Homo sapiens: one gene and its partners. The protein of the gene in region 2 purifies or fractionates together with the protein of the main gene of each other region. This does not show direct contact. Each region holds a gene or a part of one and is shown on either strand. Other genes may lie near its edges. The genes, in order: PLEKHG3, FAM20B, RIC3, PARP14 and C1GALT1.

Region 1 (6,222 bases), on a different chromosome or scaffold from region 2:
GAACTTCTCTCTAAGGTTTCTCACTCTGCCCTGCTGGCTCGGGTCTGCCGGGTCCCTGGAACCCTCTTCCTTCGGCTGGCACTCTGCAGACTGCTGGAAGTCCTGAACCTGCCCCAGCAGGGCCACCGGTGAGCTTGGTCCCTGGCCACTGCTCTCCTCCAGCCCTGCAGTGGGGCTGGGAAGGGGTCCCTTCTCCATGACAATCACCCGCCGGTTGTCCTCCAGGGTGAGGTCTGCAGTGACATACAGGGTCTCGCCTCCATCCGGCTTGCTCTGGGGCAGAGGCCCAGGGGATTGGGCAGCCTCTCCGCCTCCCCGGCCCCTCTTGGTGCTCAGGCTGCGGCAGCGGCCCACCCTGCCCGACAGAGGTGGCTCTACCATGTTCTCCGGCACCGAGTGGCTCCTGTTGACGGGTGGGCCGCGGGGCCGGCCGCCCCCTGCTCGGCGTGCCTCATCGCGGGAGGCATACTTGGAGCAGAGCTCACGGACGTCGGGCCAGCTGAAGGTCTCTGTGGGGCTGAGGGGGCTCCGGGCGGAGGGCCGGCCCCCAGGCGAGGTGGTCCTCTGGCTGACAGCAGACGGGTTGAAGAAGAAACGCTGTGGTGACATCTCCCCAGCCGAGGAGGGCTTGGGAGGGCTGTGCTCCTGGGCCATCAGCTGCTCATAGTCAAATAGAGACAGCACCGGCTTCCTCTTACCTATGAGGAGAGAGCAAGCTGCCTGAAGCATGGGGCGGGAGGGCAGAGCTGCAAGGGGGTGCTCTGAGCAGGCCCCAACTCACTTTCCAGGCAAGGCTGGTTGTTGGGGTTTTGGGTGTGATGGGAGAAATCTCACTTACCATCCACAGCCTCTTTCATGAAGGGCCATAGGAAGAATGAAGAAAAGGCAGTGGAAAGGGGTCAGGAGTCAAAGGCAGAGGGGGAGAGCTTCTGCTCCCATCCTGCTAAAGGAGGGGCCTGGGGCCATGCTTCCTCCAGAAGCCTCTGCTGGATGGGAAGGGCCAGAGCAGAGGGCATCAAAAGGGCTTAACCAAGAGAGCAAGCTTGGCCTCAGAGCACTGGACTGGCTGCCAGGGCTCACCCTGTGCCCTTAGTGCCCAGGGTCCAGCTTCTCCCTTTGGTAGAGCCTCCTTAGAGGTCACTTTCCCCGAGGAGCCAAGTGGCTCCTTATTGACTCTTCAGTCCCTAGACTTGGGGAAGGGCCCACTTGCCGCTTCTGTCATACCTTTGCCACCTAATGGCTCTCCAGCCTCTTCCTGTAGACAGGGCACAGTGGGGCTCTTCCCATCCCTCTCAGGGGCCACCTTTTCCCACTGCAGTGGTGGCCTGGCCATCACTGGCTTGTTGCTCTTGATCCGGAGGCTGTACTGGCGGGCCAGCTGGTAGACCTTGTTCTTGACGCGCTCGCTCACGTGGCTGTCCATTACGTGGGAGAGCTGCACGATGCGGGGGTGCAGTGGGGCCACCAGCTCCCCCTGGGTACTGCTGCTCAGCTCCTTCACCAGCTCTTTCAGCTCCCGGGCCAGGTGGGCCGGGCTGCGCCCCTCAGTGGGAGAGGAGCTTTCCGGGGAGGCAGTGGCCGACTCCTCTGTGATGGCTCCCAGCTCATGCTCCTCCAGGATGAAGAGTGGCTCATGCAGGTCAAAGCCATTGGCCTGGCCCTGGCCTGGCCCCTTCCCAGGGCTCCCTCCGGAAGACTCCATTCCCTCCCAGATCTTCACAATTTCTGAAGATGGGCGGAACTCAGCATCTGAGATGGGAGGTGGGTCCCCTTTGACTGCCTGGCTTGGTCCTGGGAGCTCAAACAGGGCCCACGAAGTCGGCCGGGAGCCCACCTGTCTCTTGCTCCCCACTGGAGGTACTGGCTCTGGGTCTGGCCGGGGAAGGCTGTTGAACCTGGAGATGGAGTTTCTTACCAGTCCTTTGGGGATGTAGGAGAGGCTCTCCCGGCGACGGACGCTGAAGCCTGCATCATGGTGTTCTGCATTTTCATAATAGCTCTTAATCTTGTCTAGCAACAGCCGGTCTCGGGTGGAGAGTGCTGATTCCTTCTTCTTGCAGGAAGACCGGTCAGGCTCCACTGGGCAGCCTGGGCTTGGGGGCTCCATCCCATTGACAGAAGGGCTGTCCTCTGTGGCCACCCCCACACTGATGTCCACTTCTGGGGAGAGCTGACAGCTGAGGGAGTCTGTGGCACTGCCATGCCGGGCCAGGCCCTTCTCGCTGCCCTCCAGGCTGAGCACGCTGCTGCTCCGGCTGACCAGCCGCGGGCTCCCAAAGCCACTGGACTTGCTGTCCTCCTGTGCCACGCTGCTCCGCCGAGAGAAGCTGCTGACAAATCGCTCCGCAATGACGCTGGCCTGGTCCAGCACAGAGGGTGGCAGAAGGCTCTCAGGCTCCTGGGCGGCACCTCCCATTTCTTCTTCCTCCTCGCTGCTCAGGGCCTTAAGGTCCTCAGTGCTCTCAGCTGCCACGAAGTCCACCATGTCACCTGGGGGGTCCATCCCCAGAAGGCCCTGGTGGGCATCAAGCTGTGTCTCCAGGACTTCTGGAGATTCTGTGTCTGAAGGCGTCTCCTCGGCACTGGGCCCTTCCACAGCAGAAAATACCTCTTGCTCACTCCCAGCCTCAGGGTCCGGCTCAACCTGAAACATAGCAGAAAAGGCTCACATGAGTAAAAAGCCTCCTTCATGGGATCCGGGGAACAAGGGGACAGCATGGCCTGCTCAAGGCCCAATGACAGGGACCTGTAGTTTAGGACTCAAGGCAATCAGAATGAGCACGACTTAGGAGTAGGTGATGGGTCCTTAGAGGAACATGACTGTGTCCTTTAGTCACCGTACAGTGGGGGTGCTGGGCCCATGTCCTCAAAACCAAGGAAAACAGTAAGAATGCAGATGGGTCAGGATGGCAACACCTTGATGGCAGCCAGCCTAGGAGCTACAGGGACAAGGTGGGAACACACAACAGTGGGTTGGGCATGGCCCCAGGTTCCCAGGGGCTGGTTCTCACAGTGTCATGGAACCAGCATGGCTGATGGTGAGGCAGCTCCCCAAAGCCCTAGAGGCTCCTCACTTGGAGGTTCTAGGGTTCAAACCCAGACCTGCACAACATGAGAGGCCATTTCATTTTCCTCAGGGGACAGGGCCTCCCATGTGGATTAGGGTCTAGAGAGCAACACAGCCACATGCTGGAATCTCGTCAGAGGATGAGGACCAGGAATGTGGCTCCTCCCAGTACCTGTGGGCCCAGCACAACTGCATATGCCCAGGAAATGGGCAAGGAAGAAAGCAAACTTGAGAATTCCCTCTTGACCACCTTGAAAGTAATTTGAACCACAGAACTGATGACATACGCGGCTTTCCAGAGCAGTCTTTAAGGAGATAAGAGCAAACACTAATTATAAGATCGGACATAATTCCTTCTGTTCTAGTTCAGAATCTGCAGAGCAAGACCCATGATCTAGACTTGCACTGTTCAACATGGGAGCCACCAGCCACTGTGGCTTTCTGAGCACCCGAAATGGGGTTAGGCCAGATGGAAACCTGCTCTTGGGATAAAATACACACCAGATTGCAAAGACTCTGTATAAAAAAAGGGATAAAACATATCAGTAACTTTTTATGTTGATTACATGTTAGAATAATACTCTGTATACATTGGGTTAAATAAAATATACTACTAAAATTAATTTCATCTGCTTCTTTTAAACTTTGTAATGGGTGGTTCTCATTGTATTATTATTTGACACCCCAATTTGCTCTGCTCTGAATGTCTGTGTATCTCTAAAATTGCCATGTGGAGGCTAACACCCAGTGTGATGGGAATGAGAGGGGGGGCCTTTGGGAAATTAGGTCACAAGGGCTCCATCCTCATGAGTGGGGTCAGATCCCTTACAAATGAGGATCAAGGGAGCTTCCTTGCCCCTTTGCCATGTGAGGACACAGCAAGAAGCCACCATCTACGAAGCAGAGGGCAAGCCCTCCCCAGGGTCTGCTGGCATCTTGACCTTAGAATTTCCAGCCTCCAAAACTGTGAGCAATAACTAAGCTACCCACGTAGCAGTAAGGGATTTTGTTACAGCAGCTCAAGCTAAGACATCATGCTACATTCCTGTCCAGTATCATCCAGGCTTCTCAGTCCTGGCTGTGGGGTCCAACATGGGGTCCAGGCTGTAGCTCACGATCTTTCCCTTATAACTTTGGGAAAGTAAAGGATGCTGCTTCCTACAACCCACAGACAGCATAGGGCAGCAGGAGGAGGAGAGTGGGCCTCTGAGTCCCAGCCCCAGGTCTGATCTCAGCCCCGCGCCTCAGAAGCTGCTCAGTGTTAGGCACGCCATCAACCACTCAGTGCCCTTTTCCTTCTAGAGCCATTGTGGGGAAGAGTAGGAAGAAATAACACATCAGTTACAGAGGAGGTGTCCAACAGATATCAGTTCTCTACCCTTTGCCCAGGTGACCACAGGTGTGATTTCAATGTCTGGCATGCTGGCAGGGACAGGGCCTTATAACCCATACAAGGTGGCCTAACGAAAGGAGCCTAATACCTGGTTCATTTCCACTAGCTGCGTGCCCTTGACATGGGACTGCATCTGCCCAAAGGGGAGCCTTTCTCTACTTCATAGAAAGGGGTGGTCTGCTCACCAAACCATATACTCTAGGCCAAACAGGCTTCATGCAGGGCTGAGAGTCCTGGGAGGTGGGGAATCTCTGTTCCCATGGGCCCAGTGGGAGAGCCTGTGCCTGAAAGCCCTATTTGCAGACTTGAAAATCTGGACTCCAAGTTCTTCCTACTATCCCCATCCCACCTGCTGGTCGCTCACCTCTGGCAGGGAAGAAATGGACTCGAAGCTCATGCGCTTCTCAGTACTGGTTGGAGACCGGCCACTGGGCCTTCTGCTGCTCCTGGAGCTTTCAGACTCCCTGCGCCCCTTTCCCTGCAGAGGTAGAGGTCAGTCATCAACTCCAAGACAACTGGAAGCTGATCCCTTCTGCATCCCAACACGGGCAGTGCCTCCCACGCCCCAAGGGGCTGGGCTGAGCTGAGAGCCAGTCTTGGACCTGAGCCATTCCAGAGCCAACCTGAACTGCCAGGCCTGGGGCTGCGGAAAGCCTTGTCAGGCATGCAGCTTCAAAAAACCTCAGCCCACCTTTCTGTCCCTCCAAAGTGGACTTGACCTTTCCAGCCCCACTGTGTGCTAGCTTCTCCCTGCCCCCACCACCCCACCCCACTTGTCATGCTTGTTGGGCGTTATATTGATTAGTGCCCAGTACTGGAACAGAGCATGCCAGGGGCTCACCAGGGTGTGACAGCGAGCGATGGTGTTAAGTGCTGAGGGGAGGAGTAAAACCAGGGCAGGGTGGGGTGAGGAGGGCAGCAGAGGGGGCCCTCGGGTGGGCATGCACATCCCAGGGAGCATGCAAGGAGGAGGGGAGATCGAAGAGACACCTCACCATAGCGCCCCGGGAGAAAAGTAAAGCGTTGGCCCGATAGTGCCAGCAGTGGAGGGCGGCCAGCAGGGAGCTGGCAAAGTCGGCTACCTGCTCCGCCACCGCCAGGCTCTCCTCCTGCTCCTCCTCCTCCTCCTCTGAGCCTGGGGGCTCCGGCCCAGCCCCCTTCTCGTTGCCTTCATGCCCTGTCAGGTCCTCCAGAGAGACCTGAAAGGCCTGCTCTTCCTCCTCCTCCTCCTCCTCCTCCTCCACCACCTCCTCCTCTTCCTCTTCCTCCTCCTGGGTAGCCCCTTCAGCCTCTGGCTGCAGGCCCCGAGTACGGGAGGGCTGCCCAAAGTCCAGGAGGGTTCCAGCACTGCCTGCATGCTGTTCAGAGCACAAGACCCCCTCGTGACCAGCCTCTTGGGCAACCTCCCGTCCTCCTGCAGGCAGCTGCGGGGGGGGAGCCTTCACACAGAAAGCCACACCTAGATGCCCAACTCAGGTTGCCACTGGGGTCCAGGGAGGGGTGGGCATTCTCATGGTGGAAAGGCTGGGACCTGGTCAAAACTTCAGAACCCAAACAGGCCTGCCTACTTGTCTACCCTAGGGAGAGGGAAATCTGAGTAGGTCCACACTGGGCAGGCCCCCAGCAGGGTGCTGTTCTAGGCAGAGGGTGCAGAAGGGCCCCCAGGGCAAGGCCCATGTCTTATTCATCTCTGTGGCCCTAAGCCACACAGCCTGGTACACAGTGGGTGCTTAGTAGGCATTTGTTGAATGAATGAAGACAA
Region 2 (6,222 bases):
CCAGTCAGGTGTGGCAGGCTGAGGCAGGAGAATCAGGCAGGGAGGTTGCAGTGAGCCGAGATGGCAGCAGTACAGTCCAGCTTCGGCTCGGCATCAGAGGGAGACCGTGGAAAGAGAGGGAGAGGGAGACCGTGGGGAGACGGGAGACGGGAGATGGGAGACAGGGAGGGAGAGGGAGAGGGAGACGGGAGACGGGGAGGGAGACAGGAGACGGGAGACGGGCCGGGAGAGGGAGACGGGCAGGGAAAGGGGAGAGGGGAGAGGGAAAGGACCCTCTGGCATTTTTAGGAATTGTTGTCTTACCAGAATGAGAACCAAATACTGGTGGTTTGGGATATGCAAAAGTCCTTTATGGATTTTGAAAGTTAAAAAAATGAAAGTTAAACAATTATGTATAGCTTGCTCTTTTGTTTTTGTTGTGTTTTTCCTCATTGTTTTGGTTATTAGGCATGTGTAGCCAACCTCATGGCTCCTAGATGGCTTGCATTCCAATTAAAATAGAAATATTTGCTTTAAAATTTTCAGTGTATGTGGTTCTTGCTTATTAGTGTCACAGGATCCTTGGGGTGTCACTTTGCCAGTGAGAAACCTCTGTGGCCGTGGTGCCTTCTGCCTGAGTAGTGCTTGTGCCCACTGGGCTCGTTCTACCCACTCAGCCTTGCAGGCCGTGCTCAGCTCGTACTACTGGCCTGGATCTTATACCTGCCAAGGGCAAGCCAGGTGCAGAGCAGCAAGGGGTGTGTGGACAAGCTAGCATGGGGTCTGGCCACTGTACACAGCCACGCACGCTGGGGCTGCTGTGGTGGGGTAGGCAGCTCCAAGCATAAGCACAGCTGCCGGTTCTGTGTGAGTCTGCAGCTGGACCAGAGTATCACATGCAGCTTCTGCTGCGGGTGCCCATGTCTGGACAAGGGGAACATGGTGGCATCCAGAAACTTGGAGACACCAGGAACCTCAGAACCCCAAAGAGGATGTCACAGCCCTGGCTCGGGGAGACCCTAGGTCTGAGCTCCACAAAGGGCCCCAGCTCTTCTCTCTTTCTGATTGCCTACCACATGGTGAGCAGGGGGTGTGTTTCAGCCCTGTTTGCATTACAGCTCTTTCAGTCCTGCCATTTGGTGGGTTCTGAGTTCTTGTCCCATGCCCCACGCTGACAACTGGGGGTGAGCAAAGTGGAGAGGAGCTTCACTGAGCAATAGAACAGCTCTCTGGAGACCCAAAGTGGATAGCTCTTTCTGCAGCCATGTTGTTCTGATGAGAGTCTAGCTTTCAGTGGAGAGGAGACCCACAGTGGGTAGATCCCTTGTGCACGCAGGTTGTCCGGATATCTGTTTGAGTCTGGCTGAGTGCAGGGTTTTTATGAGCTCAGAAGAGAGGAAGTGTGTGCTGATTGGCCCATGGGTGGCCATGGGTGGGCCCAGAAAAAGCACCATAAGTTCTCACTGTGGTTTGCGGACTCTTAACCAGAACCGACAGCCCAGCCCCCATGCTTCAGGCCATCCCTGGCTTGAAGGTGGGGCTTCACTGGGGACCCATCCCTTTCCGCCCAGGAGCCTGCCTCCTGCCACCATTCATGTCATCCACAGTGCCCAAGCTGTTTGTACCAAGGGATGCCTGCAGGCCTACACTGAGCCATCCTCAGTCCTCCCTTGGCCTCCCTCCCATGCTCATTGGTGCCCAAAGTCCGGAGTGGGCTGAGACAGCAGGGGCCTGGTGTATCAGCACTGCCCCAACCACATATATACAGGTCACGACATCACCTGGGCTTTGCCACAATTTTGCTCCACCCCAGAGTGGGTGCGGGGAGTGGGGAGAGGCCAGGCAGCAGGAGTGGCATTTTGGAGCCTGTGGGTGTAGCTGTGGCTGGGTGGCTGCAGCTGTACCCAGGAACACGGGGCCCCTGCTCCACCATCTTGGAAGAGGGCAGGGCTCCCACCTGTTCCCAGCTCCTTCCAGCTCCGTGGAGTGTGCAGCCCTGGCCATGCCTCTCCCACTGCAGCTGGTGTCTTCGCAGCAGCTGCTCCAGTTGGGCCACTGCTGCCATCATTAGGTCCTTCTCCAGATTAGTTAATTTTAAATTATTGAACCTTCTTGAGCTCAAGAATAGAAAGCCTAAAAGGGTGAGTCATATATTAGAGGCTTACAAAAGATTCAGGGGTGGAAGGACAGAATTTTTGATCAAATTTTGCTTTGTACTTGGGCTTGCAGGAACTGTGGAAGGTGCATCAGTGAAGAAATGGACCAATGTGTATAATCATGGAATCTCCTTGCTAACCATCACCACCAGCTCTCCTTAATACATGAGCAAGAGTGGGTCAGGGGAGAAGGAAAAGAGGTCAACATGAAGCTAAAGCAGCGAGTCGTGCTGTTAGCAATTCTCCTTGTCATTTTTATCTTCACCAAAGTTTTCCTGATTGACAACTTAGATACATCAGCTGCCAACCGGGAGGACCAGAGGGCCTTTCACCGAATGATGACTGGCTTGCGGGTGGAGCTGGCACCCAAGCTGGACCATACCTTGCAGTCTCCCTGGGAGATTGCAGCCCAGTGGGTGGTTCCCCGGGAAGTGTACCCTGAAGAGACACCAGAGCTGGGGGCAGTCATGCATGCCATGGCCACCAAGAAAATCATTAAAGCTGATGTGGGTTATAAAGGGACACAGCTGAAAGCCTTACTGATACTTGAAGGAGGCCAGAAAGTTGTTTTCAAACCTAAGCGGTAAGTTTTGATCTTGGAAGCTGCATGTGCTAGTTGGTTGATTCATTTAACTTGGGATTTATATAAGATTTATTTTGTCATCTTCTCTTGGAAGTCTCTTCAGTAAAATAAGAGGGGTAGACTAGATCTCTAAAGTCTTTTCTAGCACTTAACATGAATCTACCTTTATAGTATCATATAGAATAGTCTTCCTGCCCTAAAAATCCTCTGTGTTCTACCTACTCATTTTTCCCTCTCTGCCCCAGAACACCTGGTAACCCACTGGTCTTTTTACTATCTCCGTAGTTTTGCCTTTTCCTGAATGTAATATAGTTGCAATCACAGAATGTAAGCCCTTTCAGATTGGCTTCTTTCACTTAGTAAAGTGCATTTAAGGTTTATACATATCTTTTTGTGGCATGATAGTTCATTTGTTTTTATCACTGAATAATATTCCATTGTCTAGATGTACCACAGCTTAATTATCCATTCACTTACTGAAGGACATCTTGGTTGCTTCCAAGTTTGGGGCAATTGTGAATAAAGCTGCTATAAACATCCATGTGCAGGTTTTTGTGTGGACATAAATTTTCAACTCATTTGGATAGATACCAGAAGCATAATTGCTGGACCACATGGTAAGAGTACGTTTCATTTTGTAAAAAACTGCTAAACTATCTTCCAAAGTAGCTGTACCATTTTGTGTTTCTACCAGCAATGCATGAGAATTCCTGTTGCTCCACATCCTCACCAGGGTTTGGCATCAGTGTTTCAGATCATAGCTGTTCTAATAGATCTCTTATTTCTTTCACCTGTTTTAAGTAAAGAATTGGGCCATTTTAGTTACCTTAGTTAACTAAATATGTATGTTGTTCATGATCCCTTTGGACTTCCTAGGGATCTACAGAGATAATTTGTGTGACAATTCTGTGATACAGTTAATTATTTTTATTTATTTATTTATTTCTCTACACAAGACAGCTTGGAGGGTATAGTTAATTTTCTAAAAATGTTTTCTGAGTGTATGAATCTGAATTAGGTTAACATCATGATGGTGATTTGTATTCTTTTGCCGGGAGTTAGTTACCAATGAATATTCTCAAAGTTTGTAATGTCTGAAATCTTTTGGGTACTAAACATTTTTTTCATTCCTCAGTAGAGCTTTTGAAAAAATTATAACATGACTTTAGATTTCTTTCTGGAGTGGGAGAAGAAATGTAGGGAAAAGATGGACAAAATTCAACTCCCTTTCTTACCCAACTATTAGTAAATGAAAGGCAGTCAGAGCATGAATGTATAGGGAGCCCAGAAATGGAAGGGATCACTGTTGGTCTGGAACTGGGAAATATATGTCAGTGATGTGGAAATTAGGAAAGTTAAAACATTTGGTAGACTTTCAGAGAATAAAAATTTGACTGGGGCTGGGCGTGATGGCTCATGCCTGTAATCCCAGCACTTGGGGAGGCCGAGGTGGGTGGATCACTTGAGCCTGGGTGATGTAGTGAGACTCTGTCTCTATAAAAAAATAAAAAATTAGCTGGGCGTGGTGGTGTGCACCTATAGTCTCAGCTACTTGGAAGGCTGAGGTGGGAGGATGGGAAGATTGCTTGAGTGCGAGAGTTTGAGGCCGCAGCAAGCCATGCTCGTGCCACTGCCCTCCAGCCTGGGTGACAGAGTGAGACCTGTCTCAAAAAAAAAAACCAAAAAACAAAAAAAAACCGTGGTTATGTGGGCCTGGGATCTAATTTCTGTAATGCACACTATTTGCCAGGGATTACACTAAGTACTTTTGTATCTCTTAATCCTTTAAACCCTTATACGAAGGTTTAACCTTTTTGGACAATTTCAGTTCTTATTTCCTGAATAAGAAACTGAGGTTCAGAGAGTGTAACTAACTTGACAAGGTCACCTCACATCAATCAGTGGTACAGAAGTTTGAACCCATATTTGTTAGAGTTGTAAACAGCTTGTATTCTGCCACACACATGGAATTCTCTAAGTTTGTTTGCTTCCCATAAGTGATGACGTGGAGCACTCATCATCAAAAATCGCATTTAGCTTTGAAGTTTGGTCTTTGACTTCTTGGCCTGAGAGATAAGCAGCATAAACAGAGTAATGGAAAAAGGCAAACTAAAGACAAAAATAAAATTTGTATATAAAGAGATGGCCGGGCACGGTGGCTCACGCCTGTAATCCCAGCACTTTGGGAGGCCAAGGTGGGCGGATCACTTGACGTCAGGAGTTTGAGACCAGCCTGGCCAACATGGCGAAACCCCATCTCTACTAAAAATACAAAAAATTAGCCGGGCGTTTTGGTATGTGCCTGTAATCCTAGCTACTCAGGAGTCTGAGGCAGGAGAATCACTTGAACCTGGGAGGCGAAGGTTGCGGTGAGCTGAGATTGCACCATTGCACTGCAGCCTGGGCAACAAGAGCAAAACTCCATCTCAAAAACGTAAAATAAAATAAATAAAGAGATGAGTTGTGAGCATTTTGTGTTTAAATAAGAGGAGATCTGGCTGGGTGCGGTGGCTCATGCCTGTAATCCTAGCACTTTGGGAGGCCGAGGCGGGCGGATCACCTGAGGTCAGGAGTTCGAGACCAGCCTGGCTAACATGCTGAAACCCCGTTTCTACTAAAAATACAAAAAATTAGCTAGGCACGTGCCTGTAATCCCAGCTACTCGGAAGGCTGAGGCAGGAGAATCGCTTGAACCCGGAGGCGGAGGTTGTAGTGAGCCGAGATCACGCCATTGCACTCCAGCCTGGGCAACAGGAGCGAAACTCCGTCTCAAAAAAAAAGAGATCCTCATCACACCTACCACTTGTACACTGGAGAATTGAAGGGGAGTTGGGACAGCAGGAAGTGTGTTAGAAGACAGATATTCCCAAGAGCGTGCAGTGTTAGACCAGGTGCTTTGCAGGATAGGCCTGAAATGTTCAGACAAGATATAAGTGGTGGGAGGAGAGGCCAGACTGATGAGTAGGGGAGGTAGTAACAGATAATGCATAACCTTAGTCACTTCTTGCTTCATCTTATATCTCTTACTACCACTGCAGCCTTCTCATTACCTCCCTCCTCCAGACCATCCTGGAAACCACTTCCGTTCTTCCCCGTTCTTCCCCAGAAGACTTATTATCACTATGTTCCCCAGCTTTAAAACATCCAGGGACTTCCCATTGCCCACCAGACAAAACCCAGCCTCCACAGCCTAAGGTCAAGCCCCTGACTGTCTGGTCCTCCTCTCTATACTCAGCCTTATCTTCCTTTTGCTCTTTGTTTCTGTCAAACTCTGGCCCCCTGCTCCCGCATCATCTCCTAAACAGCCTGTGTCCACTCCCAGCAACAGGGCACTCTCTTCTCCAACTCAGCAAGGTTTTTTTTGGCCCCTGCCATAGGTGCTAACTCTCTTAGTCACTGCACATACTGACCTGTGCTGCTTTATATCAGGAAATATCACAGGCTGGGGAAAGTGGTTGTAAGTTTAAGTGCTTGCAGAAATTGACTCCAGTCCCTAAACACCCA
Region 3 (6,222 bases), on a different chromosome or scaffold from region 2:
CTGCCTAATTGCCCTGGCCAGAACTTCCAACACTATGTTGAATAGGAGTGGTGAGAGAGGGCATCCCTGTCTTGTGCCAGTTTTCAAAGGGAATGCTTCCAGTTTTTGCCCATTCAGTATGATATTGGCTATGGGTTTGTCATAGATAGATCTTATTATTTTGAAATACGTCCCATCAATACCTAATTTATTGAGAGTTTTTAGCATGAAGGGTTGTTGAATTTTGTCAAAGGCTTTTTCTGCATCTATTGAGATAATCCTGTGGTTTTTGTCTTTGGCTCTGTTTATATGCTGGATTACATTTATTGATTTGCGTATATTGAACCAGCCTTGCATCCCAGGGATGAAGCCCACTTGATCATGGTGGATAAGCTTTTTGATGTGCTGCTGGATTCGTTTTGCCAGTATTTTATTGAGGATTTTTGCATCAATGTTCATCAAGGATATTGGTCTAAAATTCTCTTTTTTGGTTGTGTCTCTGCCCGGCTTTGGTATCAGAATGATGCTGGCCTCATAAAATGAGTTAGGGAGGATTCCCTCTTTTTCTATTGATTGGAGTAGTTTCAGAAGGAATGGTACCAGTTCCTCCTTGTACCTCTGATAGAATTCGGCTGTGAATCCATCTGGTCCTGGACTCTTTTTGGTTGGTAAACTATTGATTATTGCCACAATTTCAGCTCCTGTTACTGGTCTATTCAGAGATTCAACTTCTTCCTGGTTTAGTCTTGGGAGAGTGTATGTGTTGAGGAATTTATCCATTTCTTCTAGATTTTCTAGTTTTTTTGCGTAGAGGTGTTTGTAGTATTCTCTGATGGTAGTTTGTATTTCTGTGGGATAGGTGGTGATATCCCCTTTATCATTTTTTATTGTGTCTATTTGATTCTTCTCTCTTTTTTTCTTTATTAGTGTTGCTAGCGGTCTATCAATTTTGTTGATCCTTTCAAAAAACCAGCTCCTGGATTCATTAATTTTTTGAAGGGTTTTTTGTGTCTCTATTTCCTTCAGTTCTGCTCTGATTTTAGTTATTTCTTGCCTTCTGCTAGCTTTTGAATGTGTTTGCTCTTGCTTTTCTAGTTCTTTTAATTGTGATGTTAGGGTGTCAATTTTGGATCTTTCCTGCTTTCTCCTGTGGGCATTTAGTGCTATAAATTTCCCTCTACACACTGCTTTGAATGCGTCCCAGAGATTCTGGTATGTTGTGTCTTTGTTCTCGTTGGTTTCAAAGAACATCTTTATTTCTGCCTTCGTTTCGTTATGTATCCAGTAGTCATTCAGGAGCAGGTTGTTCAGTTTCCATGTAGTTGAGCGGTTTTGAGTGAGATTCTTAATCCTGAGTTCTAGTTTGATTGCACTGTGGTCTGAGAGAGTTTGTTATAATCTCTGTTCTTTTACATTTGCTGAGGAGAGCTTTACTTCCAAGTATGTGGTCAATTTTGGAATAGTTGTGGTGTGGTGCTGAAAAAAATGTATATTCTGTTGATTTGGGGTGGAGAGTTCTGTAGGTGTCTATTAGGTCCACTTGGTGCAGAGCTGAGTTCAATTCCTGGGTATCCTTGTTGACTTTCTGTCTCGTTGATCTGTCTAATGTTGACAGTGGGGTGTTAAAGTCTCCCATTATTAATGTGTGGGAGTCTAAGTCTCTTTGTAGGTCACTCAGGACTTGCTTTATGAATCTGGGTGCTCCTGTATTGGGTGCATATATATTTAGGATAGTTAGCTCCTCTTGTTGAATTGATCCTTTACCATTATGTAATGGCCTTCTTTGTCTCTTTTGATCTTGTTGGTTTAAAGTCTGTTTTATCAGAAACTAGGACTGCAACCCCTGCCTTTTTTTATTTTCCATTTGCTTGGTAGATCTTCCTCCATCCTTTTATTTTGAGCCTATGTGTGTCTCTGCACGTGAGATGGGTTTCCTGAATACAGCACACTGTTGGGTCTTGACTTTATCCAATTTGCCAGTCTGTGTATTTTAATTGGAGCATTTAGTCCATTTACATTTAAAGTTAGTATTGTTATGTGTGAATTTGATCCTGTCATTATGATGTTAGCTGGTGATTTTGCTCGTTAGTTGATGCAGTTTCTTCCTAGTCTCGATGGTCTTTACATTTTGGCATGATTTTGCAGCGGCTGGTACCGGTTGTTCCTTTCCATGTTTAGCGCTTCCTTCAGGAGCTCTTTTAGGGCAGGCCTGGTGGTGACAAAATCTCTCAGCATTTGCTTGTCTGTAAAGTATTTTATTTCTCCTTCACTTATGAAGCTTAGTTTGGCTGGATATGAAATTCTGGGTTGAAAATTCTTTTCTTTAAGAATGTTGAATATTGGCCCCCACTCTCTTCTGGCTTGTAGGGTTTCTGCCGAGAGATCCGCTGTTAGTCTGTATTTTCTTATCTGTATTAGTTAGGGGTGGCTAACTGCTGTAACAAATAGATTCCACAGTGTATAATGACCCTAACACAATAGAAGTTGATTTCTCACTCTTACAGACAGGTCCAGATGACTCTAAGTTAGTGAGGTGGCAGCAGTGGAGGGCTCTGCACTACATAATTATTTAGGAATCAGGTTGATGGAGGCTTTGCTGTTTCTACCCGTGGCTTCCAAGGTCCCCGTGGGTGTTAGCATCCATGCTGCAGAAAAGAAATGATCACGGAGTTGAATAACAAGGGAGATTTTATAGACCAGGCCTTGAGCTAGCACAGTCCTAGTCACATTCCTTGGTTGGAACTCAGTTTATATGGCCACATTTAACTGTATGGGAGTCTGAAAAATGTGGTCCAGCTAAGGACCCAGAGGGAAGAGAAAATGGGTTTGGTGAACAGCTAGAGATGATCACATCATATTTAGGATATGTGTGATACCTCTGTATCCTTTTAATTAAGTTGCCATTTTTTTCTTCTACTTGTTTGTGTTGGCCTCTTTTATACCTTAATGATTTGGTGTTTTCATGATAGCCATCTTTAAAATAGTAGAAGAGATAAAAAGTGATTATTATTTTCTCAGGAAAATTGGGCCGATTTCCACCTATGATGCATCATCACCAGGCACCCTCAGATGGCCAGACTCCTGGGGCTCGTTTCCAGAGGTCTCACCTTGCCGAGGCATTTGCAAAGGCCAAAGGATCAGGTGGAGGTGCTGGAGGAGGAGGTAGTGGAAGAGGTCTGATGGGGCAGATTATTCCAATCTACGGTTTTGGGATTTTTTTATATATACTGTACATTCTATTTAAGGTAAGTAGAATCATCCTAATCATATTACATCAATGAAAATCTAATATGGCAATAAAAATCATTGTCTACATTAAAACTTCTTATAGTTCATAAAATTATTTCAAATCCATCATCTCTTTAAATCCTGCCTCCTCTTCATGAGGTACTTAGGATAGCCATTATTTCAGTTTCACATAAGAAATGTTTACTCAATGTTTAAGTGTTTTGCCCCAAAATTCACAACTAACAAGGCAGAACTAGGACTTGAACATGGATCTTTTGGTTCTTAATCCAGTGAGTGATACAATTCAATGCACTCCCCTGCCAAAAAAAAAAAAAAAAAAAAAAAAATTAACATCTTTACAGGCCGAAAAGGAATAAAGATTTTCTAAGAAGAGCTTTTATTATTGGGATTGGCACAGTGATTTCCAAATAGCCATTGTAAGGCCAAATAATGACACCACTTTATCCTGCTTGTTTCTCCACAGGAATTTGAGATGCTGTTTTTAATATTATCTCCAATAATTCTCCTGAGACAGAACTGTCCCTCCTGAAATTAAGCCTGATATTTCCTAGCTCTGGGGAGACATGGGTGTAGGTTCTTTAAAGCAGACCCCCAGTTGAGTTCCACCTCCAGGCAGGCCTTTGCAGGCCCCTGGCCCCTGTACTGTGAATTAGAGGCAGAAGACTCACTTTGCCCTCCTGTCTAGAGTAAGCTTAAATAAGATGAGTTCTTTCTCGCCCAGGAATTCTGCAGGCAGTCTGAGTTGAGTCTGTAAGAATGCCCATAGGGTGCCACACATCCCTTTTAGATGAGCATGAGCAAGGAAGATGACCTGTAGGGAGATTTTTTTTCCCTTGTGTTAGAAATGCTTGTTCTCTGGTGCCATAAAGAAGCAGCACTTGGACGTACATTTAATTTCCTCAGCAAGGCCATTTTTACTTTCTGCAGAAAGGGTACACTCACCAGCGGTTTTGCCGTGAGAGTACACCGAACAAAGGAGACAGGGTCATTTATAACCTGACGCATCCACCTTACTGCTGTGTCCGGTTTCCATTGGCTGGAACGGGACCTCACATTCTGTATTTGTGCTGATTGGCTAGCGACTTAGAACTTTTTAAAAGAGGCAAAGGCAGAGGAGAACAAAGGAAGGAGGAACTAACTTGTGGAATGCTGAGAAAGGTAAAAACACCTTCATATAAGGAAGAGGAACAGGCTATGACCTCATGCTTGCTTTGACAAGTATAAGCATGCCAGGGCAAATATTTAGGCTAAACTGTGGGAGCTAAGAACAGTTGATTTCTTTATTATGGCTAGCAGATATCTAAGCATGTTAGCACAGGTTCTTGAATAAATTTTGCTTCTAAGAGAAGTTACTATTCCTAATTATATGGGGAGTAAAGTCTCTTTGAAGAGGAATCTCTACTTTACTTTTTACACTTGTGCTTTGATAATTTTTTACTTGGAAACCTCATCTTTTGGCGTTTTTTTTTTTGAGCTATTTCTCTAGTGTTGCTATTTGATTTAATTTCTGACCTTCATTTTTGTTTCCCAACCTTTTTTTTTTGTTTGATATGAGGGGTTCCGTGACTGAGGTTCTGAGCTGCTGTTGATGTGCTATACCTCCTTCAATTCTCAGCTCTCAAAGGGGAAAACAACTGCAGAGGATGGGAAATGCTATACTGCCATGCCTGGAAACACCCACAGGAAAATTAGTAAGTGCCCCTTCTCAGTATATTCACAGGTATTATTGAGTCAAACAGTTTTATAGCCACAGGGACAGTCTGTGGGTATGTCTTAAAAGCATTTCTCAAAAGTTGCTCCAAATTAATCTGATGCCATTTTTGCCTTAGTTCTGGGAATTCTCAAAAGTTTTTATATTGATGTACTACAAAAAGTACAAAACCACCAGTTCACTTTTTAATATATTAGCAAATTAATATTTCACGTTTGGAATGACTTCTCATTTTCAGACTTCAAAATATTGGTAGCAGAGAGCAAAATGGAGGCAGAGAAATCATATCATTGCCAAAATCAGTTTTTAGATCTAGGGAAAGAGTTTAACACTTCTGACTGTTGAAACATGGCCATCAGATACTTATTATACAACTAGAATATTCTGTGTTCTCTAGGGAAATTAAATTTATACAACATGGCTCTTTCCTCAAGAATTTATAGACTAGAATGTATGTCAGGAAAAATAACCTATGAAAAATTTACCACCCGCAAGTAAGAGACTTGGCAAAAGCATTGCAGGAAATCATGTTTATCTGGGCTGTAACTGCTTTTTGGATTTACTTCTGGATTTTCTATGGAACTAAATATCCCAGTCACACTTTGCATCCTTTTTGGAAATCTTAAATATTCACAGAATCCTTTAATAAAACTGCGGTGTTCTTCAATGAGATAGTAATGGGAAGTTAGACAGTACAATAGCTTTTTAAAAATTTGTGGTCTCTTTAACAGGTTTAGGGAGTTGTCTCTGATGGTTCTTAGATTGTTGCTTATTTTTTAGCCAGTTTTGAGCTTGCTCAACTGCAAGAAAAACTGAAGGAGACAGAAGCAGCCATGGAAAAATTAATCAACAGAGTGGGACCTAATGGTGAGAGGTAGGTTTTCATGTAACGGGACTCAGACTATTTCTCATTTAGAAAATAAATTCAGGCTGGGTGCAGTGGCCGAGGCCTCTAATCCCAGCACTTTGGGAGGCCGAGGTGGGTGGATCATCTGAGGTCAGGAGTTTGAGACCATCCTGACCAACATGATGAAACCCTGTCTCTACTAAAAATACAAAATTAGCCAGGTGTGGTGGTGCACACCTGCAATCCCAGCTACTCGGGAGGCTGAGGCAGGAGAATCGCTTGAACCTGGGAGGCGGAGGTTGCAGTGAGCCAAGATTGTGCCCTTGCACTCCAGCCTGGGCAATGAGAGCGAAATTCTATCTCAAAAAAAGAAAAGGAAAGAAAATTCAAAATTATGCTTTTTTTTTGATAAATAGACCACTTATTTTCATTTTAT
Region 4 (6,222 bases), on a different chromosome or scaffold from region 2:
TTTCTCTCCTTGCATCCTCTAATTTCAGATTGGTCATTTTGTTAAAACAATGAGAAGTGTTATTGTCATTATACTGCCATTCTATAAACTCACTGATACAATCTGCCCGGGATTCCTGTTCTTTGGCCAATCGAACTCTCTTGATCATCGCCTCAATTTCATCTCTAGCCTGCATCACATCTCTGCTAATTCCCAAAACCTTAATCAAAGGTCTCTTATGGTCCAGGGAAATGTTAATATTTAACTTCTTCTGCAGCTCATTCAACTCCTGATACTCCTTTTCATCAAAGTCTTTGATGCACTCATCTTCACTGGTGTAAGGACACTGTTCTTTTTCAATCAGGTCTTGTAGCCAGGAGATAGCATATTCCACACACGTGACATTTTCACCACACACCCGAAAAGTTGCTGATTCTGTTTTCTTTTCCAAAACCAAATGATTCTTTTTTTGGGGAGATTGCTTTGAAAAGCCCAAAAATGCTAAAAAGAAAAGGAAGATTAGGTATTTCACATGTGACATCAACGTTATGAACATGCATTTCATAAAAACAAAGAACTCACATGCAAGTTTAGACATCACAGACTGTTGGGAAGAAAGCTGAGTCCCTTCTCTTTTCTTCATGTTGGCATAAAACACATCCAGTACTTGAGGCAGAAAGATAACAACTTTAACTTTTTTCACAGACTGGGCTGATCCTTTCTGGACAAAGTCTTCAATGGCATCAATTATGGCTTCAGCAACCTTATCTGGGTGTTGTTTGGCATTTCCTGGAAAAGCAAATAATAAAATTGCTGAAGGACAAAAAAGCCCCAAGTGGAAGGCTGAGGAATAAATTAGGGTTTCCAATGCTCAGAGAATAAATGCCCACTCCTCAATTCTTTCATCATTGTGGAATTTTCTAACAAAGCATCAGCAAACACTTTTGAAGTCCTAGATGCAATGAAGTGTTTTTGTTCCAGGATGTCAGGAAGCCCACAGCCTAGCAGTGAACAAAGGACCCAGAAATCTGACTTTTGGTGTCTGACAATCATATCTACTCTATTCAACTGATCCCAGCTCATTGTGTTCCTCCTCTCCTATTACAGAGCACAAGTAGCTTTTCTACTTAGCTCGCTAGTGTCCTTGAAATTTCATAAAAAGCAGATGCTAATATATGTTGACATAAAATACTTTTTAAAGATGAAAATCTTTTTTAGGATCAGTCATCACTTGATTTTATGTATGTATCCTTATTCTCCCAGATATCTCTGGGAACCTAATTTGAACTAAGCAAAATTTAGTAAGACACCCAGTGCTACAGGCTATTTGTTATAATCTATAATTTTTCAGACACAAGTTATCTATAAGCCTCCAAGAAGCCTTTCCCTCCACACTCAGTGAGATTTTAGCTGACCAGCAGGATTCAAGGTAGCCACCTGAAGCAGAGCGTTTCCTGTTTTCAGCATACTCCATATCCTCCTTCTCAAGCCATGAAAGCAACAGCCTAGGTAAGATCATGAAAAGTCCCTTTCCAGCTGGGGGAACAGTCCCATGTGAATAACAGCTGGCAAAGTCACATGATGGGCAATGTAAAAGTTCCTTGGCCAAGCTGATGTGACAGACTAAGAGCCCACCTGGCTAATTGTTGTTGATGGTACCCACCACTATTGCAGAAGAAGAGTAGGCTTCTTTGACTTGGCTATGCTGACAATTGTGGGAATGTAGACAACCCCACATAAAATTAACCAAGGGGGGTTGTTCAAATCTTTTTAAATCAGATGATCAGAGAACGAGGGAAATTCTCTTTTGCAAAGCTGTAATTTTCCCATGGTATTTTGAAGAGTTTATATGGACACATTCAGTTACATTCATTCACTTTCAAGAAACATCTGCTATGTCCTATCACTGGCTAGGTACTCACTAGGCACTTGCTAGAACACAGATGATGTGATATGCGGGGATGAACAGGTGATCAACAGGTGAAATATGGAAAATTGAGGGAAAGGCTATGCCAGATGGAACTATGTAATGGGTATATGTTCAGCCTGGCACGTATGCAGAACAGACCTAGTTTTGAGGAAGTTAAGTCTGGAGGGGTATGGAGGAAGCATGGAGCGGGGAGCCCAGGTCTAGTTAGGACGCTGTAATAAAAGCTTAGTCAAAAGACAAGAGCTGAACAAAAAGAGGAGGCCAGAATGAAGAATAGGGATTGAGGAGCTATTTTGGAAGTAAAGTCAGGAGTACCTAGGGACCAGCTGGGTTTGTCCTTCACCTTTCCCTCTCTGTCTTTTGCCATACACATACCTTCACTATATCATGGTTCACGTTGCATTGCAGTTGTTTGTTTGCATGCCTGTCTCTCACACTGGGCTCAGTGCTCCTTGTGAACTGGATCCTTTTCTTAGTTATCTTTCTATCTCCAGAGCCTAAACATGGTGCCTTGCAGATGCAGGCACTCAGTAAATATTCAATCAAATAATTCCTAAGCTAATGAAGATCGGAGTGACGAAGAGGGTAGAGTCAAGGACTCTAGATGGAAAGTGATGTTTTTCACGTGATTGGGGATATAAGAGGAAGGGCAGGTTTGGGGAGATGACAAGGAATGAGAGTTTGGAGTCTGCGTTGAGCTTGAGGTGATCACAGGTATTGCTAACCACCTAATCTCTCCTCTTATGCAGGTGTCTTTAAGGAACAGAGAGGAGGCTCCTTTAACTGCCAGAGGCTGTCTTGATCACAGTCTTAATTCAACTCATATACACCACTAAAAGAGAAAGCTTCTACATCTATCAGTCTCAGAACCAGCTCAGGTGGTGATAAAGATAGGTAAAGAGGACATGCAAGGATAACCCACTAACCCTGATTTATTTGTGCTGACCAGCAATGCAACCAGGTCAGTGGAAGAAACAACAGGATTTGTTGTTGAGTCCAGAATTGAGTCCAGAAATGCTCAAATGTGTACATATTTATACAAAACGAAACCTACCTTCTTTCTTTGTTTCTTCTTTTGACTCTACCAGGGACTCCTTTGGGAAGGTCTGTGGCACCCCTAAGCTGCTTGCTTTCTTGGCCCAAATCAACTGAAGGTGGAAACCCAAGACTAGAGCTCAGAGAAAAAAACAGATGGAGACAGAGACTGAGGAGTCATTGGTGGGTGTCCATAAAAGATAAGTCAGTAGAGAGATGATAGAGATAGATAGACAGATCGATAGATAGATAGATAGATAGATAGATAGATAGATAGATAGATAGATAGATAGATAGATGACTGGTAGAGAGAGATAGGAGAAATGTTGGCTAATCTGCTAGGAATAGATGATACTCTAAGGGGAATGAAAACAAAGGGATCAAAAATTATACTTTTAGAAATAGAAAAGTTGTAAAATAGACATAGAATTCCATCTCGGAACATTATAAGAAATGGTACAGAATTACAGATATGGGTCAGAGGGTTAGAAGAAGGCCCAGAAATTGACAAGGATGGTTAAGTTTATTGAGGATAACCTTTTGGAAAGCCTAGAATGCCAGCATAAGAGATTCAAACTTAGATTCCCGAGCAACAGAATGACAGATCCGATGCTGACTATTCTCGCACTGGAACAAGGCAGCTCCGTTGACTTCAAGCCTAAGAATGCATGCCTCCCCTGACCAGCTCTCTGAAGGAGACCAAGCAGGGATTCCTAAAGAGCTCAAAGAACACCTGTGCAACAAAACTGCACATTCTGCCCATGTACCCCAGTATAATTAAAAAAAAAAAACCACCTAATTAATGATAAATCCAGAGCGCCATCCTTATATATGAAAAATCACGCTATCATTACCTAGTTTTAGGAAAAGAAGAAAATCAAAGAAGCAAGTAGGCTGAAAAGAGGAAAGTGGAGAGTTGAGTTTCTGACCCACTAGGTTCTGGTGACTGAGAAGCTTCTACACAGAAATGCCCTGAGGCCAAGTGACACAGCTGACTGTTGAGCTGAAGCCTGGTAATATTCCTCTGGGAATCAGCTAGAGTGAGGTGGAAGTTGTTGTACTAATATTCTCCATGGAGAGGGGAAAGAGGAGGAAGCTAAGGACTGCATAATGGAGAATATGTAGGGAATGGAAAAAGGGAAAGTAACTGAGGAAAGAGAATGAGGGATGGCCTTTCCACTCTCTCCCTTCTCTTCTCCTCCTTATTTTCCCTTCCCTTCTTTCTGCCTCTCTAACATTCTAACACTCTCTTCAGTCTCCTGCATTTTGTCCCTCTTTTACTCAAACAATCCACAGGCTTTGTCATTCCCTTGGGAGTTGTCTTATGGGGAGGAAGCTGTCCACTCCTAGCTTAATGGTTGCTGCCCTGGGTCAGACTCAGCACTGACCGCATTCACACTCAGCTCCAAATGAAAGGGAAAGTAGATGGCTTGGGATTTAGCCTTGACAGCCAGAGGCTACGAACCTGTCCCAATGGCTGGGAGGCAAATGGATGAGTAATTTTTTTTTTCACACTCCTGCAAAACAGAGGAAACTGAACTCTTGACATCATTTCCACCAATTACATGAATGATATTCTTGCACCTCAAAAATCCACCTCCGGTGATTATATAATCATTTTTGCGCTGCTGAGCTGGGAAACACAGACAAAAAGATGCAAAATTAGTAGAAGTTGAACCCGTCATTTGTTTAGAAAGCAAAATGTATAACTTGGCAAGTAAGCATTTTGTGAAAAAAAAAAAACTCCTGAAATACTATCTTTGATGGAATGCTATGACTTAACTTTACTTTTAACTGTGAGATTACTTTTCACTTCTAAGTGTCTGTGATTGGAATTCTTTAGTAAAATGTATCATTTTAAAATTAGAGTGTTGTCTCCCCAACCCTAAGACTTTTCTCAGCCTCTCCACAGCCTCCCATACAATTACAACTTAGGACCAAAAAATAGAATATGCCTTACCTTGCTGAGAACATTCCCTTTCTACATTTTGTCCAGCACATTCTAAAATTGCTTTGGAGACCCCTACATGAGAAAATCAAGATGATAACAAACATGAGTAAAAAACCACTATGGTATATTTGGATCAGAAGGATTATCTGAATGCATTCTCCATCATCTGAGGAATCCTCTAATTGGGTATTGCTGATGACAAAGAAGAAAACTTCATAAAATAAACATTATTAATTATGGAAAACCCTGTCAGCATAATTTAAAAGTTATTAATTAACAAGCCAAAGTTCTAAAAACCAGTTTGGCTATAGAAACCCTCCTTCATAGCATCTACCATTAACTATTGCACTCATCAAAATTGTACAAGTACCTGCTTTGAGATTGAATGAGTTTGATGTTGAATTTACAATCACATCTGCCTCTTCTTTCGTGATATCTCCAGAAGCCACCTGGAAGATGATGGAGCCAATCTTCATTTCATACACACCTGAATCAGGGCTAGAAACAGTCCCATAAAAACCTGAAAAGAAAAGAAGTAAAGTCAATAACCGAGTCAGCCACAGCAAGAATGACTTGGGTATCCTGCTCACATGGGACCCTCTTGGATGTCTTCCCTCTCCCTCTCTTTCTGTGACCTCTGGTCTTTAACCTGGCCCTGCTCCTCAGCCTCAGTGATGATCTGTTTAAGAAAAAAGAATTAGAACATAGAATCCATATCAAACATGAACTCTGGTGCTGACCAAGGTGAAGTTAGCGTACTATAGCCTATCTCTCCCGTTGATTACAACTAAAAACAGGACAAATACAAAAAGCCACCACCCAAGAGCTCTGAAAAGTTACAATAACAGCAGACAGATTGAAGAAAGGTGCCAAAACTTGCAGAAGCAATCTGCTAAGTGGGGCAGTTTTCCATTTTGTTCTGTTTTAAAATTTTTCCTCTTTTCTCTCCCAGCTTTGACCCAAGGGTGGCCCTAGTCTCACAACATAATATTTAAAATGTCAAGTCTGTATTCCAAAATTGCTTGTTATATAAAGAACCAGGAAAATTTGATCAACCCTTAAGGATAAAGAAAATCAAAAGCTGTCAATCCAGCCAGACACAATGGCTCATGTCTGCAATCCCAGCACTTTGGGAGGCCGAGGTGGGTGGATCACTTGAGTCCAGGAGTTCGAGATCAGCCTGAACAACATGGTGAAACCCCATCTCTACAAATAATACAAATATTAGCTGGGATGGTGGTGCACAACTGTAGTCCCAGCTACTTGGGAGGCTGAGGTAGGAGGATCACCTGAGCCCCCAGAGGTTGAGGCTGCAGTGAGTTGAGAT
Region 5 (6,982 bases), on a different chromosome or scaffold from region 2:
TGCTTGGAGATGGCAGACAAGATGGCTGTCTGGTTTCAAGACATGGTTTAATTTTGTGTTAACTCATTAATTTTTAAAAAATTAAAAAAAATTGATTGAGGAAAAACAACTGGGGGCAGAATTCAAGTTTCAAGGATTCCGTTGTTCTATTCACCATGTTACTTCCACAACTGGCAAAGTTTAGCTCTCAGTAAGATTCACACTACATCTCTCTATAAGAGATCAAAAAACCCTTAGATAATACAGGTGTCAGGGAGCAAAGATAATCCTAACATTGTATGCTACCTACTAAAGTGAAAAAGATATACTTCATTCAATTATTTATTCATTCAAACAACAAATAATTGAACACCTGCATGTGTGCCAGGCATTGTGCTAGGCTCTATTATATCCAGCTGTATGAGTTACCTATTGTTGTATAACAAACTATCCCAAAACTTAGTGGCTTAAAACAACAATCATTTAAACATTTAGTATCTCACTGTTTCTGTGGCCTAGGAATTCAGGAGCACCTTAGCTGAATGGTTCTGTCTCAGGGTCTCTTTCTAGGTTACAGTCAAGATGTTGACCATGATGCATGCAATCATTTGAAGGCCTGAAGGGTTGGAGGATCTGCTTCCAAGCTCACTCACATGGCTCTTGTCAGAAGGCCTCAATACCTCACCGGTTGTTGGCTAGAAGCCTTAATTACTCACCATGTGAGCCTCCTTATAAGTTGCCTGAGTGACCTTATGACTCTGACATAACAGCTACCTGGCCCCAACAAGTAATCCTAGAGAAAGAATAAAAAGTCTGGCATGTTTTATAGTCTCCCCTCAGAAGTCACATTACATCATTTCCACTACATTCTATTCATGAGAACAAGTCATTTAATACAGTCCAAACTCAAGGTGAGGGGAATGAAGTTTGACCCTTTGAAGGAAGAAGTATCAAATAATTTGTGAACATATTTTAATACTACCATATGAGTTAATAAAATTTAATACACGAAATTTAACTTAATTATTATAAACTGGTGTTAATATATTTGTAAAATGTAGGTATTTAAAGGGAAACTAAGTCTATTAAAGAAGACAATGTTTTAATGTTGTTGCTAGCTTGTTTGCATTTTCTGTCACCATTTTCACCTCATTCTGTCTATTAAAAAATTCTATATATAGTGCTAAATAAATGATGACTTGGCCTATCTTATTATGTCAACTAAGAATTGCATTTGATACTTACAACAGACAATAACAAAATCTTATATAGAAGGGATATAATCTTCCTCACCTAACAACAAATCCAGAAGTGGATAGTCCAGACCTGGTAAGTTGGCCCTCCAAAGCAACCATGGACCTAGGCACCTCTGGTGTCCTACACTATTAATAGTGTCTGTGTGGCTTTTGTTATTATGGGTGAAATATGGCTGTTCTACCTCCAGTATCATGTCCCTGTTTCAGGTTCAAAAAAAAAAAAAAAAAAGGGATGGGTGCATATCAAATGGCTAAAGCGATATTTCTTCCATAAAGCTTTCCTTGAGTCTCCTCTACAGAAATTCACTTTTATTTAATTGATGGTCACATGGCCAGCCATGACTTATGAAAGTCTAGGGGCATGAATATTTTTAACTGGCCACATTGTCACCCTGAAGAAATCAGAGTTCTACTAGTAAAGAAGAAAGGATTTTGGTTTAGACAACTAGTAATGTCTACCGACCTACTCCAACGAGTTTTGACATGCATTATTAAACACTAGACACAAGAGAAACAACAATACTGAGGTTTATGTGTGTTTCAAGTATGTTTCAAATGGGAGAATCTGGTCAGTTTTGAGTCCCACATATAAAGTATATTTTTCAAAGTAACCACAATTTTTATTCTCTAATTGAAAATGTCGAAGAATTGGCTGACATTAATGTCACTTCTAGGAATGTGTTCAAGGAGATAATTGCACAATTGTGCAAAAGCCTATGGATAAGAATGTTCATCAGAGACTTTTTTTATGGTAGTAAAAACTTGGAAACATAAATGTCAATCAATAGAATACTGGTTGGATAAATGATGGTATATCCATTTAACAGACAGTATGCAACTTTTAAAAATGATGTTATTCATGACTGTTGTTCACTGTGCAGATAATACGATCCAATTTATGAAATATTGTATTTATATGTCTATATGTGCTTTTATTCTTAGAGAGATGCCTAGAAGAATGTAACACAAAATTTAAGAAATGGTTATCTCTATATTATGGTATTTGGACAGATTTTAACTTCTTTGCATTTTTGTTTAAATTTTTTAAATTTGTTTGCATAAGCATGTATTGTTTTTATAAAACAATAGTTATTAGCTGGGTGCCACAGCCTGTGCCTGTAATCCCAACTACTGGGGAGGCTAAGGCGGGAAGATTGCTTCAGCCTTCAGCCCAGTTATTCGAGGCTGTTGTGTGCCAAGATCACACCTGTGAATAGCCACTGCATTCCAGCCTGGGCAACATAGAAAGACCATATCTCTTCAAAAAAAAAAAAAAGCTATTTTCAAAGAAAGGCAGGGTGGGGGCAGGGCTGATTTGGTCCAGTATTGTTTCTAGCAAGTAATTTTCCAGGATAAGGCTGTGGCTGACCTTATTTTAGGAAAGGGTTCTAATCTTTGCTCAATGGAAAAAAGTGTTATTCTTTATTAATTATAACTTTTAATAAAATTAAAACGAGATAAGGAGTTGTGAGTTTTGGTTTCTATTTGGAACACTGACCCCTGAAAGAGTTCTCCTTCCATGTTTCACAATGGATGGCAAGACATTGCGGAAAGGTGGAAGGATGTTGCGGAAAGGTGGAAGGATATTGCGGAAAGGTGGAAGGATATTGCGGAAAGGTGGAGGGGGAGGAGGCTGAGCAACAACTGTATACAAGTTGGGGAGGAGTAGAGAATGGACGTAATCATGTAAGGCAGAGAAGTCTGGACCCATGAGCCAAGGAAAGAGCAATAACCTGGACATCAGGATAGCTGCACTTCTCTTCTAACATGGACCTATCAGTTTATCTTTCTGGCCTTAGTTTTGTCATCTGAAAAATGAGACATCTGTATTAGAATCACTACATGTGCTTTATGTTTCACAATTCTTTTGGATATATTGATGCAATGTCCTGAGAAACTACACTACAGCTGAACCTAAGCAAATTAAAGGAAAAATAACAATAACTAATGTATATTATTATTTGTCTCAGGCATTCTAAGTAACTTGCCAATAGGTGGAGGGACCAAGATGCCAGCCCGGGCAGTCTGATTTCAGAGCCCATACTCTTTAACAACCATGCTGTAGAGTACTAAAGAACCGCTTGGATAGGGCATTTAAAGGAAGCAGGGTAGCTTTCCTATTCTGGAACGTGGTCTTGTAGATAATGGTTAACGCCAGTAAAGACTAAACCTTACCCTCACCTCATGACTATTGTGGGGTTGCCTCAACAGGTGGCAGCCTCCTCCCCCTATTCCAAAGACAACTTCCTTATTCAGAGCCCAGCGAAAGGGGAGATAGGTTTTGTTACGCCCCTAAGAAGCTCTTCCGGCCATTGCCCCACAGAACCGAAGTGCTGACAGAACCAAAGACGAAATGTGCCTATAGAAAGCTTTCTGGTATCATTATCTCGGTTCTCAGCTCTTCCTGGTTCTCACATGATGACCCAGCACCCGTATGCATACTTCATCTTATTACTTCCTTTTATTAAGCCCAGAGAGATACTGAGTAAAGAGAGCACGGGGAGAGAACAGAAAAACAAATGAACGGGTTAAGAGCAGGCTACAGGCCACAAGAGTCCTGCAGGGTTAGAGCCTGTACCTCAGACAAAGGTCCTTCAAGCATCCCCTTTCTCGCTCCCTATTGTTACCCTGCTTTCGTCCCGCTCAAGGTCTTGAAGCTAGTGCATAACCTTACAGCAGGATCAGAAATGCGGAGAGTAGCAGACACAAGCCGCAAGGGGGATACAACAAAATCTACTGCTCGTGCAAGATCCGACTTCCCAGACCCCTTCGCATTAGGGCGGAGCGTGCACCCGGCAGCCAATCCCCGCTTCCTCACGTCGCCGTATCCCCGCCCACCGCCCCTCCCGCTCCGCCCTTCCCTGGGGCTGGTGCGGCGGCGGAGACGTCAGCGCCAGGAGACTTCGGGTGGCGGCTGCGCCATAGGCGGGCCACGGCCTGGACGCGCTGCGGGGAGGGGCGGAGCGAGCGGGCGGGAGCGCGCGCTGGGCCCGCCTTGGCCGCCGCCGCTGTGCTGCCGCTGCCGGGGAATAATCTGGGCGGCAGCGGGCGGCCTCGGCTAGCGGCCACGAGCCACTTCTGCGGCTGCCCAGAGAAGCAAAGGTCACCAGTCCCAAGTCGTCCCCCTCTCCGCCCCCCAGGAGGGGCGAGAGGGAGCCGCAGCTGATGTCAGGTATGGCCGGCGGAGGCGCCCTCAGGCTACGGGTCCAAGGTCTCGTCTCCCCTCGCCCTCCCCCCTCTCCGGGTTGGTGGGGAAGCGTGGAGGATGGAACCAAACCCCGGGCGCGGCGGAACAGGTGTCTCGGGGTCAAAGCCGGGCTGGGGTCGTCCGGGCTCCTGAGGAAGGCGCGAGGACTTCCCGCTCCCGGAGCCTTAGCGATCTGCCACAGCGTTCGGCTGCGTACCCGGCCTCAATTTTGTGGACATGTACCCTCCTCTTCGTCGTGGGTCCTTCCCTTGTGCCCGCTCGCGCCCCTCTTCTGCTCGCGCGCTGCCTGGCGGCGCGGCGGGGCGCGCAGTGCGCCCGGACCGGACCACTTAGCGGTCCTGCCCCGCCGGGCCCTCCCAGTCCCTCCTCCCGGGCCCTCCCCGCCCCGCCGCAGACCTGTGGGTCCCGCCGGACTGGGCGCCCAGGTGTTGGGCACCTTCGCCGGGGAGCCACTCGGCTGCCGCGCCGCCTGAGCGCCCAGCGAGCGGGCTCCTTCCAGAGGTGCCTGGAGCTTGCTTGGGTCTAGCTTGGATCATCAGGTTTGTCTGTAGCTGATTTATTTCTTTAAGTTTCCCTGCCGCAGAGTGAAGCAGATACGTGTGTGTTGGGGCATTCGGGGCATGGAGGAGGAAGAAAGGCATTAAATTTTTTTTTTTTGCTTCTGCACCCCATTTTTCCCCAACAAATTGTGATGGAATTAGTAGGTGTTGACAAGTTGTCCATTTGCTTTGAATTTGGGTAAGTCGTACACTCTTAAAAGATGACCATAATTTAGCGCTGTGGATTTATTCTTTCCTGGTCCTTACCGTCTCCCCACCCCCCACCACCCCGCATTTAAAGCAAACAACAGTATCAGCAACAAAAAACCCACACATCCTGGAAAAATTCTCAAGATTTCTAACCTAGTTCTCTATATCCATTGTACATACTACTGTATTTCCTTTTAACGCTTTTTTAAGATAGAAAACTATTGTGCTAACCATGGATTGATTTCATTATGAATTTAAAAGTTATAAATTTAGAACCATAATGAATCAATGAATAATTGGCCGATGTGTAAGGGAGAGAAATATGTTAACTTACTAAAAGTTGGGCATAGAACATAGCTCTGCCAGGAAAAAGTGCGCATAATTTCAAGTTGCTTCATTCTGGTGTGAGTTTGGGAAGTTGGAATCCGAGTTTTTAGAAGGTATTTAGATGACAGCTTTTCACCCTCTTAGGTAAATGGCAGTTGAGCTTAATGCCCATGATGCTGTATGTTCTAAATATTGTATATAGTACACTATACTTTCTACCAGTCTTTATATATAGATGTACAGTTTAAGTGAATATAAAGTTTCAAGTTAGCAAACAGTTAACTCTTCACCTTATGGTAAGTGAAACAATGACTTAGTAAGGAAAGTATGACTCATTTAAAATTCTTCATAAAGAGAATAATTTTTCAGTATTAGTGGAGAGCTACTAAATGCCTCTCAAATTTGCCTGGAATGTGTATTTTTTTGTATCTTCCTACTTAGGATTAAGCATTTTAGAAATATTTTGTGTTTCCTATTTAAAGTTTTTCATAATTATGCTTTTTAAGACTAGACTACGTTGAGTAAATTCAATATCCAGTTATTCTTAAAATTGTATCACAAATTTATTTCAGGGTACACATAATGAGTTCTTGTTTACCTAATAGAAATATGAAAAAGTATGTCACTAGGCACATGCTACTATTTGTGTATTGATTTGTGCTAAAATTAAAATTGCATTATGCAGTTTAACATTATAAGCCATGGTAATTTAGAGTCTTTGTGTGGTAAAATCATTGATTGGAATTTTTGTGACAGTGCAGCTATAAATAAACCTTAAGTAGAAAATGGAAAGCTTGATGCTGAAATTAAATTCAGATAGGCTTAAAAGTTTAAGCTTCCCAATACAACCATCTTTTCTTTTAGAAGATTTCTTAAGATTTGATTAAAGACGCTGATGTACAAACTATAGCAAGGCTGAAAGAAAGGTATGACAAAAATCTTTTTACTTCAAATTCAGTGGGATTAAGTCATTCTTTTAAAAGAAGAAAGGTGGGGAGCGGGAAGGAGACTTGTTCCATAAAATGAGAAGTTAGCCTTTTATCTTAAAATCTGGTTAGAGAGGAACTCCAATGTGTACTTAAATTATTTTGCAGCTAATTCAAATGTCCAAGGGGAATATATATGCCAAAATCTGTAATATGTGAGAATAGGAAGAGGGAGAAAAAAAATATATAAAGAAACTGGTGTTTGTGATTTAGGGAAGCACATAAGAAGGTGGGGGAAACTGAAAGGAAAGTCTAAATAAATTATCTAGCACCTGTAGTATGTGCTGCCTTGCACATTGAAGGGGCGTGTTGGGGGCAACGAGAGGCAATATTAGGGAGATTCTGGAATGGGAAACCTGTATATTAAAGCACATTTAAACGGCTAGATGTTGGATAATAGGCAGAATTTGAAATTAAATACAGCTTGGCATAGTTATTTGCATTCTTGGTCATTGTATTTTCTAGGGCTGCGGTAAC

The links.
Region 1: the proteins of FAM20B (region 2) and PLEKHG3 purify together in Homo sapiens (co-immunoprecipitation; one large-scale study listed by IntAct). This does not show direct contact.
Region 3: the proteins of FAM20B (region 2) and RIC3 purify together in Homo sapiens (co-immunoprecipitation; one large-scale study listed by IntAct). This does not show direct contact.
Region 4: the proteins of FAM20B (region 2) and PARP14 purify together in Homo sapiens (co-immunoprecipitation; one large-scale study listed by IntAct). This does not show direct contact.
Region 5: the proteins of FAM20B (region 2) and C1GALT1 purify together in Homo sapiens (co-immunoprecipitation; one large-scale study listed by IntAct). This does not show direct contact.

What each region holds. Positions count from the first base shown.
Region 1 is NC_000014.9:64,737,458-64,743,679, reverse strand, and holds part of PLEKHG3 (pleckstrin homology domain-containing family G member 3), read right to left. Parts: intron 4,939-6,222; coding exon 4,825-4,938; intron 2,645-4,824; coding exon 1,225-2,644; intron 699-1,224; coding exon 1-698. UniProt on the Homo sapiens protein: Plays a role in controlling cell polarity and cell motility by selectively binding newly polymerized actin and activating RAC1 and CDC42 to enhance local actin polymerization.
Region 2 is NC_000001.11:179,041,507-179,047,728, forward strand, and holds part of FAM20B (glycosaminoglycan xylosylkinase), read left to right. Parts: intron 1-2,208; 5' UTR 2,209-2,341; coding exon 2,342-2,718; intron 2,719-3,266; coding exon of another isoform or gene 3,267-3,335; intron 3,336-6,222. UniProt on the Homo sapiens protein: Responsible for the 2-O-phosphorylation of xylose in the glycosaminoglycan-protein linkage region of proteoglycans thereby regulating the amount of mature GAG chains.
Region 3 is NC_000011.10:8,136,969-8,143,190, reverse strand, and holds part of RIC3 (protein RIC-3 isoform a precursor), read left to right. Parts: intron 1-2,997; coding exon 2,998-3,224; intron 3,225-4,843; coding exon 4,844-4,919; intron 4,920-5,719; coding exon 5,720-5,813; intron 5,814-6,222. UniProt on the Homo sapiens protein: Molecular chaperone which facilitates proper subunit assembly and surface trafficking of alpha-7 (CHRNA7) and alpha-8 (CHRNA8) nicotinic acetylcholine receptors.
Region 4 is NC_000003.12:122,712,617-122,718,838, reverse strand, and holds part of PARP14 (protein mono-ADP-ribosyltransferase PARP14), read right to left. Parts: intron 5,575-6,222; coding exon of another isoform or gene 5,564-5,574; exon of another isoform or gene 5,416-5,563; coding exon 5,266-5,415; intron 4,968-5,265; coding exon 4,905-4,967; intron 4,578-4,904; coding exon 4,410-4,577; intron 769-4,409; coding exon 562-768; intron 481-561; coding exon 1-480. UniProt on the Homo sapiens protein: ADP-ribosyltransferase that mediates mono-ADP-ribosylation of glutamate residues on target proteins. In contrast to PARP1 and PARP2, it is not able to mediate poly-ADP-ribosylation.
Region 5 is NC_000007.14:7,178,414-7,185,395, forward strand, and holds the start of C1GALT1 (glycoprotein-N-acetylgalactosamine 3-beta-galactosyltransferase 1), read left to right. Parts: upstream 1-4,130; 5' UTR 4,131-4,407; exon of another isoform or gene 4,408-4,982; intron 4,983-5,012; exon of another isoform or gene 5,013-5,181; intron 5,182-6,383; exon of another isoform or gene 6,384-6,445; intron 6,446-6,970; exon of another isoform or gene 6,971-6,982. UniProt on the Homo sapiens protein: Glycosyltransferase that generates the core 1 O-glycan Gal-beta1-3GalNAc-alpha1-Ser/Thr (T antigen), which is a precursor for many extended O-glycans in glycoproteins.